Linked DNA regions of Homo sapiens. The protein of the gene in region 2 purifies or fractionates together with the protein of the main gene of each other region. This does not show direct contact. Each region holds a gene or a part of one and is shown on either strand. Other genes may lie near its edges.

Region 1 (3,158 bases), on a different chromosome or scaffold from region 2:
CCATGTATCTGGAACTGTTCTCTCATTTACTCCTCACCAAAGCCCTCCAAGGCAGAGACAATGACTATCCCCATTTTACGGAGAAGGAAACTGAGGCCCACAGAGGGGAAACTACATCCCAGAGTCAAAGAAGCATTAAGAGGCCAGCCAGAGCTCCAAGCCTAGTTCATCTGCCCCCAGATCCACATTGTTCAGAGAGTCCTCTGTCCACCACACTGCCAAGATAAACAAAACATATGTCCCCCACCCTAAAAGCCATCCCACTGAAGATGGTCTTGAGGCTGACATGAAGGCAGGTGGGAAGAGCTGGCTTTCTGATTCCTGAAGCACAGGGAGGTGGTCAAGACTGTGGACATCATCCACATGTGGCCCAGACATCACCCAGATTGGCTCAGATGTGCCTGAACATGACCCAGGTGTGGCTCAGCCATCCAGTCCCCAAGCCTGCCAGGGGCAAAATGACTCCTGTGCCGGGACAAAGAGACTCCAGACGGCAGGCATCACAGGCAAGTGTTTATTGATTGCAGAGAGGGATGGTCTATAGAGCTCACACCCATACTCCCAGCTGGGACCCAGCCTTCCCTGATGGCTGCCATCCAAGTCTTCACTGGGAGACAGGAGAGCTGGGTTTCCACAAGGAGGCTGGAGTAAGCACAAGGGCATCCTGGAATTGGAGGGGAAAAGTCAGAAAACAGGTTTCTTTAACCTTTTGCCTTGTGGTTTATGCTGGTTTTGTCCTCCATAAGGTGACTGCTGGCACCGGGGGACCATGACCCTGAACCCACAAATACAGAATTCTTAGAAGGGTCGGGGTGGAGGGTCTGTGTGTGAACATTAATGCCACACCAGGTCCTGATGTCATCTCCATTTTGCAGATGGGGACACTGAGACTTGAAGATGGCAAAAGCCCCTTTCCAAAGTCACGCACTCAGTAGGTGGCAGAAGTGGGATTTGCACTTAGCACCCGCCTTGATCACCCCCTGCTTTGGGCCCCTCCTCTGCATGAGCTAATGACAGTAAGGTGTCCATCTCAGTTAGCAGGCATTTACTAAACACCTACTGTGTGCAGCCACTGATCACAACAGAGAACAAAGCAGACAGAAACCCCTGCCTTCTTGAAGTTTTGGCTCCACTCTAGAGGGGGAGAGATGCCCCAGAGCCTGGCACACAGTGACTGTGAGCTGTTCTTCTTAAGGGTAGTATTTGGGAGCGAGGGTGACACTGCCATAGATCCTCTCCCCAGCAGATGCCACGGAGAGTCATTTGCTCACCAAGCATTTATTGAACACCTACTGTGTGCCAGGCCATGCTGAGCACCGGGGACAGAGGCATGGACAAGATGGACATGATCCTGGCCTTGAGCTGAGACCATCTGGCCACATGGTGTGTGTGTGTGTGTGTATGTGTATGTGCATGTGTAGTGTGTGTATGTGTGTATATGTGTATGTGTGCGTCTCTGTGTATGTGTGTGTATGTATGTGTGTATGTGTGTGGTGTGTGTGTAGTGTGTATGTGTGTGGTGTGTGTATTATGTGTGTGTGTATGTGTGTGTGTAGTGTGTATGTGTGTGGTGTGTGTATTATGTGTGTGTGTGTAGTGTGTATGTGTGTGGTGTGTATGTGTGCAATATGTATGTGTGTGTGTATGTATATGTATAGGTGTATAAAGGTGTGTGTGTGTATGTATGTGTATAAAGGTGTATGTGTTTGTATGTGCGTGTGTATGTATGTGTATAGGTGTATAAAGGTGTGTGTGTGTATGTATGTGTATAAAGGTGTATGTGTTTGTATGTGCGTGTGTATGTATGTGTATAGGTGTATAAAGGTGTGTGTGTGTATGTATGTGTATAAAGGTGTATGTGTTTGTATGTGCGTGTGTATGTATGTGTATAGGTGTATAAAGGTGTGCGTGTGTGTGTGTATATGTGTGTGTGCATGCATGCATCTCAGGCCTATGAGGTTACCTGCCTTGGATGTTGCCTCAGATCCTGGGCCTCCTTCCTCATCTTTCCTGGAACACCAACAATCCCTGCCTCAGGGCCTTTGCACTTGACATCTGATATGGTTTAGATCTGTGTCCCCGCCCAAATCTCATGTAGAACCCAATGTTGGAGGTGGGGTCTAAGCTGATTGGATCATGGGGCTGGTTTCTTGTGAATGGTTTAGCGCCATCCTCTTGGTGCTGTTCTCGTGATGGTGAGTGTGCTCTTGTGAGATCTGGTTGTTTAAAAGTGTGTAGCACCTCCCACCCCTTGCTCCTGCTTGGGCCATGTGATGTGCAGTCTTCCCCTTTGCCTTCCGCTATGATTGGAAGTTTCCTGAAGCCTCCCCAGAAGCTGAGCAGATGCCAGCATCGTGTTTCCTGTACAGCCTGCAGAACCACAAGCCAATTAAACCTCTTTTCTTCATGAATTACCCAGTCTCAGGTATTTATTTTCTTTCCTTTTTTTTTTGGGGGGGGGATGGATTTCACTCTTGTTGCCCAGGCTGGAGTGCAATGGCGTGATCTCAGGTCACTGCAACCTCCGCCTCCTGGGTTCAAGCAATTCTTCTGCCTCAGCCTTCCGAGTAGCTGGGATTACAGGTACCCGCCATCACGCCCAGCTAATTTTTGTATTTTTAGTAGAGACTGGGTTTTGCCATGTCGGCCAGGCTGGTCTCGAACTCTTGACCTCAGGTGATCTGCCCACCTTGGCCTCCCAAAGTGCTGGGATTATAGGCACAAGCCACTGAGCCCAGCCTCAGGTATTTCTTTATAGCAGTGTGAGAACGGCCTAATACGCTGTCCCTCTGACGGGACACTTCTCCCAGCTACCCACAGGGCTCACCCCTCACCTCCTCAGGCATTGGCTCAAATGTTACCTCCTCAGAGAGGCCCTCCCTGGCCACCCCATCTGAAACAGCACCCCCTTCCCTGACATCACTCTCTCCTCCTGAGCCTGCTTTATTTTTCTTCTCAGCCTTCCTCCACTCAGCCTGATGTTACATCTTTAGGGCTTGTGTATCTGCCTCTTCTGCTAAAAGGTAGGCTTGAAAAAGATGGGAGTGTTTTCCATTTGTTCATTTCGGTGGCCTCAAGCACTCAGAAGCATGGCTTGCCTATAGAAGACCCTCGAAAAATATTTAGTGAATTACTGAATGAATGAATGAATGAATGAA
Region 2 (5,805 bases):
ACACACAGACATATGAACGAAGATACCATCTTGGATGTCCAGCCTAGTTGAGCCTTCAGATGATAGCAGCCCCAGCTGCCATCTGACTGCAACAACATGAGAGACCCTAGGTAAGCACTCCCCAGCTAAGCCTAGTCAACACACAGAACTGCGAGCCACTAAAGTTTGGGGTGGTTTACTAAGCAGCAATAGATAACGGCAACTAGAAGTAATGGTAATACCTACCTCATAGGACTGTTATGAAGGTAAAATGAGATTTTTAAATGCAAAACCCCTGTGTACAACCTAGAATGAAACAAGCGCTCATTATGTATCGTCACTTCTCCTGCCTTGCCTCCTTCCTCTTTTTAACTCTATGAATGTCCCAGAAGGAGAGGTAGGTGGAGTGGAGATGGGCTATATGCTAGGTATTTGGAATTTGAATAGCTCTCTTTTCTTTTTTACATCTTTCTCTTGCTTCTCTCTTTTCTGTGTTCTTTAAAGCATAGCCAGATCATTTAGATCTAAAATAAGAACACCAAATCAAGCCTTTGCGTTGCAGACAGAAAAATCACGGGTTTTGTATGGGCTTATGGTAATGAAAATCAAGCCCAAGAAACTAAATGATTCAAAGCAAAATTCCCCTTGACAGCTTTTGTCATGTCTCTGTGTGTGTGTGTGTGTGTGTGTGTGTGTGTGTATGTTAAACTAGTACTTTAGCCTACATCATTATTTTACCATGTAAGCATGATAGAATAGCAGGCTTTTTGGAGGGGAAAGATTTTAAAAGTACATGGTTACCTGTAATTACAGTCTTGCAAAGTTTGATTTTATAGAAGTGACATTCAAGTCTGATTTAAACCATGCAGAAAGACATGGTGCATATTGGAAATGCTTTTTCTTTCTGACTCAAATGGCTGTTTCGTTCTAGTGATCTCCCTAGAAGTCAGCCTTTTATTATGTTTATTGTAAGGTTGTGTGTCTTTCTAATTACGTGGCCCATCCTAGAAAACTTGCTACCTTGAGATTACCTTTCTATTTCTCCTTGCATTCCTGCAAACACCTAAACCTCTGTAGACAAGAGGTTCATCTCAGAGTCTGAACTGGCTGAGGATCATAAAATTCTGTCAAATACCTGGTCAATTAAGTTCTGGCTGGAAGAGGGGGTCAAATTAGATGACTGACATGTGCGGATAAGGGCACTGGTTTATTTCACATTTTAGCCTTTAATGTGGGTGGGTACACAAAGCCACAGAGTTTGTTGCCATACCCCAACATAAAAGCCTCTGGGACAAGGTTGAAAGGGTAGCGGGGAGAGGGCCTTGGATAGCGGATGGGGTGGTTAACCCGCGACTCTGGTGACATTTTGCCATCAGCCGCTGGTGACATCTTGCCATCAGCTGCAGCTACAGAATGTTGCTCGCAGGAGGAATTTGGCCTGCCGTTGAAGATGTGTTTCTCAGATGAGACTGTAAGGGGCCGGAGCTTGGGATTTTAGGAGTGCAGGGCCCACCTCTTCCTTGGTATCAAGCCACTTAACTAAACTCTTGCGGTGTCTTATGACCAGGGACGAAGTGCGGGGCCCCTTCAGACGTCGCAGCTGGAGTAACTGTTTTCTTTCCATTTCACAGCTCTTGAAGGAGGTGTGACTGAGTGAGGCGCTGGAAAGCTTGTTCTATAATTACTTCTTGATCCGCTTCTAGGCGTGCTGTGCATGCGTCCGACCATGTGTGTTTGCGTTAGCTTGCGCCGTCGACAAGAGCCAGAGAACGTGGGTCTAGGATAAAACGTGGATGATATTTTTGCTTCAAATGTCACATTTTACGGGGGTCTAAAGGTCTTAGGCTGGAGTCTTTGCGGATGATTGCCAACTGTAGCTGAATCTATGAGCTGGGATGTACCCAAGCCAGTGCAATCGCTCCAAATCAGGGCGGGCGGCACTAAGCCGGGGAGCAAACACCGCTCCCGGCCCGCCCAGAGCAGACGCCCTAGGTTGGGGCTGCAGCGAGTGCGCGCGTGGGCTGTGGAGCCGGCGGAGGCAGCGGTCCGGAATGGCTCTGTGGAGGCTGCGCTCTCTTCCTGGCCCCGCAGCCACAGCAGCTGCCCCATGCTCGCGCGGCAGGACCTACCAGGCGCCCACCCTGGGCTGCGCCGCCTCGGACCACCCGCTGCTCCCCTCCGCCCGCTGCCTCTTCTCCCCGCGCCTCACGGGGCTCCGCACTGACTCCAGGCGCCTCCGGGGGCGTCGCGCGCGCGGAGCGGCGCCGGGGGCGGGGCCTCGTGTAGGGCGCCCCGGGATTGGCTGTGGGGAGAGGGGGCGGGGCCGGCCGCGGAGAAAACAGCCGGCGCGCCGCGCGAGTGCAGTCTGGGTCTGGAGCCTGAGCCCTGCGGAACCTCGGCGCTCGGCCCCACCCCGCCCGTACCTGCACTTATTTATTGTTGTTATTTCTTACCGCGGAGCCCCGCAGTCGGGTCCTCCCGCCCGCTCCCGCGCAGCGCTAGCATTCTCCAGTCCCTCAGTCCCTTCCCGCGCGGTGCGCCGCAGCCGAGGCGATGCGCCTCATTCAGAACATGTGCACCATCGCCGAGTACCCCGCGCCGGGCAACGCCGCGGCCTCCGACTGCTGTGTGGGCGCCGCCGGCCGCCGCCTGGTCAAGATCGCCGTGGTGGGCGCCAGCGGCGTGGGCAAGACCGGTGAGTCGTCGCGCTTAGCCCTGGGTCTGGTCTTGGACGACCCCTGACGGGAGTTGAGGCTGAACAAGGCGTGGGGAGCGGTGGGAGCTGCAGCCCGACCGCTCTCCGTCCCCGCGCAGGGAGCCGCTGCCCCTTGGGAGTGGGCTTAGCCGTTGTCTACGCCACCCGCCTGCTTCCACAGACGGGGGAAACAAGGATCAAGAATGGCCAGGCAGCTTTCTGGGGACCACCGGCACCGCCGCCATCAGAACTTTGGGGTGTTTGAGCCTCTGGCAATGCCTGGCACAGAAAGGGGAGTTAGTGAAGCTAGCCCCCCTGGGAGGTCTTGAAGGTTAGGAAGACATGGGTCTACTGGAAGGCTTAGGTGTGGCTCAGCCGGGCTCAGAGGAGGGGGTGGGCCCAGTGAGCCTTCCAGCTGCACAGAGCCATAATTCACGATGCCTTCTAGCCCCCTCCTTTTTGTCTGGAAAGAAGGGTCAAGGAGCTACAGGGTAGGAATTTCACTTGGTGGCCATCTATGGCTTTCTTTGGGAGAACTGTTTTCCAGGCAGGGGGTGGGGTGGAGAACAATCTAACTTCCAAGGTTAACACTTTGACGTTCTTTTTTCTGACGTGCAGCACTGGTGGTCCGGTTCCTCACCAAACGATTCATCGGTGACTATGAAAGAAATGCAGGTGAGACAATGCATTTGAGAAAAATTCTGTCCCATTGCAGGAGGACTGCGGTTCCCATTTTCCAGCGCTTCCCAGGGAGGTTCTTTCAGTGACAGTCCGAGCCTGAGGATCCCGCCACTTAAAACTTTCCCCAGTCCCCAGCCCTCCATGGCGCCCCCCTCCCATAACTACCATCTGGCCTCATTCCATTCCAAGCCCATTCATCATTTTATCAAGTGCCTGAAAGTATTCCCCTTGGTATGTTTTAACTATAGTGACCCCAGTTGGAAGCACCCTTTGTAGTCAAGAACCTCTCCCTTCAAAACACTCCTGCAAAAGTCGTAAAAAAAAAAAAAAGGAGTCCCTAGCTCCTTCCCCCACCCCTCTCCTTCTCTGCTGGCTGCCTTTCAGAGGTGACCTTTTAAAGCAAAGGCCAAAGGAGAGCAGTTGTAAACCTAAAGTTCCTCCTTCTTAACAAAGACAAACAACTGGATGGTAGAATTTTAGGAGGAGAATTCCCGAATAAATGAGAGGACACATTTTTCAATCCTTATGATTAAGAATAGCCACTGGGGAGGCTTAAGAGCTTTCTGCCTATGCTCTGTTAGCAAATTGCTTAACTCTGTAGACCATATGAGTACCTATAGGGGATTATTTGAAATGAGCTGTATAAGCTATCCCAAGATAAGACATGGCAGCCTTCTGATTTGATGTAGAGTTGATTATAATTATATCACATTTTTATTCCAACTGATAACATTGGCTGTGTGTTTACTAACAGTATTTGTCTAGCAAGCCATTATATCTAACGGCCAAAATACAAAGTTACAGTCAAAGAATGAATCAAGTACTCAAGAAAACAGAAACCTCACATAGGCTGAGCAAGATAATTTGCATCAAGGGAGTACTCTAAAAATGGAAACTTTGTTTAAAACTAGATAAATAAGTTTTCAAAAACTTGCAAACTTTGCCCTGGTTTTAATAAATCTAACATAGGGTTAAAATTGCTGTTGTTTTTTAAAAAAAATCTGAAGTAAGCCCACCAAATAGAAATAAACTATCGCTGTTTTGTGTGCATTTATGCATTGTGCATTTTTTTTCTAGCTTAAAACTCACAATGTTTTAAAAGTTGTACAAGAAGGAAGAACATAATCTCTTTTATTTGCCTTCATAGGTAATCTCTATACTAGACAAGTTCAGATAGAAGGTGAAACCCTGGCTCTTCAGGTTCAAGACACTCCAGGTATTCAGGTGAGAAGCTCTGAGACTCTGGGTGAAAGGGGAACCTACTTGGCTGTGGAATCACTCACTTCTTCTCAAAGTTCCTCATGCTGCAGGATCAGAGAAATTTGGGGAGTCACATCTAGACTTTTACATGTCTGACAATTCAATTGTATCTGGCTGTTGGTCGATCTTAGCATGGTTTAGTTTGGGAGATTTGGCTAGGGGGCAGAAATCTTCCTTTAGAAGGATTCAACACAGCCGGAAAGCCCAAACCGAATGCAGTTGGAATTGGTGTTTTCCTTGCTGTGGTTTAAAAGTCCAGTTTTAATATGTGTGTCTTTGGCATGAAAAACCAAGCTTCTGGGTATAGTCTGCAAATACTTGGAATCGCTTTTGTACTGGAAAGTTGCTCTATAGACAAAAGCGCCATGCTAGGGTTTTTCCCCCCGCCTCCTGAACTGGGCAGTTATCCAGGTTTAAATGCTTCCAGCTCCTATCTTTACTTCCCCAGACTTACTGTCTAGCCAGTTAATTTCCCATTTTGTGCAACTACAAAGTCGCTCTGCATGGAGTTCTCTGCAGGTCAATTTTCCACTTGAGTGTGGTAAGCTGCACTGTTATTTATTCCCACTCTGTGCAGCTGGATCAACATATTGTCAAGAAAGCTGAAGTGTGTGGGATATAAGTTGTTTATGGCCCTCAACCTGGCACTACTATGAAGGGCTCTTTTGAATTTGAAATCTACCCAAGCCCAGGCTCTTTGTACAACTGGCCAGCATTCACCTTGCCATCACTCCTCTCTTTCAGGTCCATGAGAACAGCCTGAGCTGCAGTGAACAGCTGAATAGGTGCATTCGCTGGGCAGATGCTGTGGTGATCGTTTTCTCCATCACTGACTACAAGAGCTATGAACTCATCAGCCAGCTCCACCAGCACGTGCAGCAGCTACACCTGGGCACCCGGCTGCCTGTGGTGGTCGTGGCCAACAAAGCTGACCTGTTGCACATCAAACAGGTTGACCCTCAGCTTGGACTGCAGCTAGCCAGCATGCTAGGCTGCTCATTCTATGAAGTGTCTGTCAGTGAAAATTATAATGATGTCTACAGCGCCTTCCACGTCCTCTGTAAAGAGGTCAGTCACAAACAGCAGCCTAGCAGTACACCCGAGAAGCGAAGAACCTCCCTCATTCCCAGGCCCAAGTCACCCAACATGCAGGACCTGAAGAGGAGGTTTAAGCAAGCCCTCTCTGCCAA

Evidence for each region.
Region 1: the proteins of RASL11B (region 2) and BPIFB1 purify together in Homo sapiens (affinity purification with mass spectrometry; one large-scale study listed by BioGRID and IntAct). This does not show direct contact.

What each region holds. Positions count from the first base shown.
Region 1 is NC_000020.11:33,307,214-33,310,371, reverse strand, and holds the end of BPIFB1 (BPI fold-containing family B member 1 precursor), read right to left. Parts: intron 665-3,158; coding exon 605-664; 3' UTR 501-604; downstream 1-500. UniProt on the Homo sapiens protein: May play a role in innate immunity in mouth, nose and lungs. Binds bacterial lipopolysaccharide (LPS) and modulates the cellular responses to LPS.
Region 2 is NC_000004.12:52,859,976-52,865,780, forward strand, and holds the start of RASL11B (ras-like protein family member 11B), read left to right. Parts: upstream 1-2,341; 5' UTR 2,342-2,532; coding exon 2,533-2,674; intron 2,675-3,292; coding exon 3,293-3,349; intron 3,350-4,502; coding exon 4,503-4,579; intron 4,580-5,359; coding exon 5,360-5,805.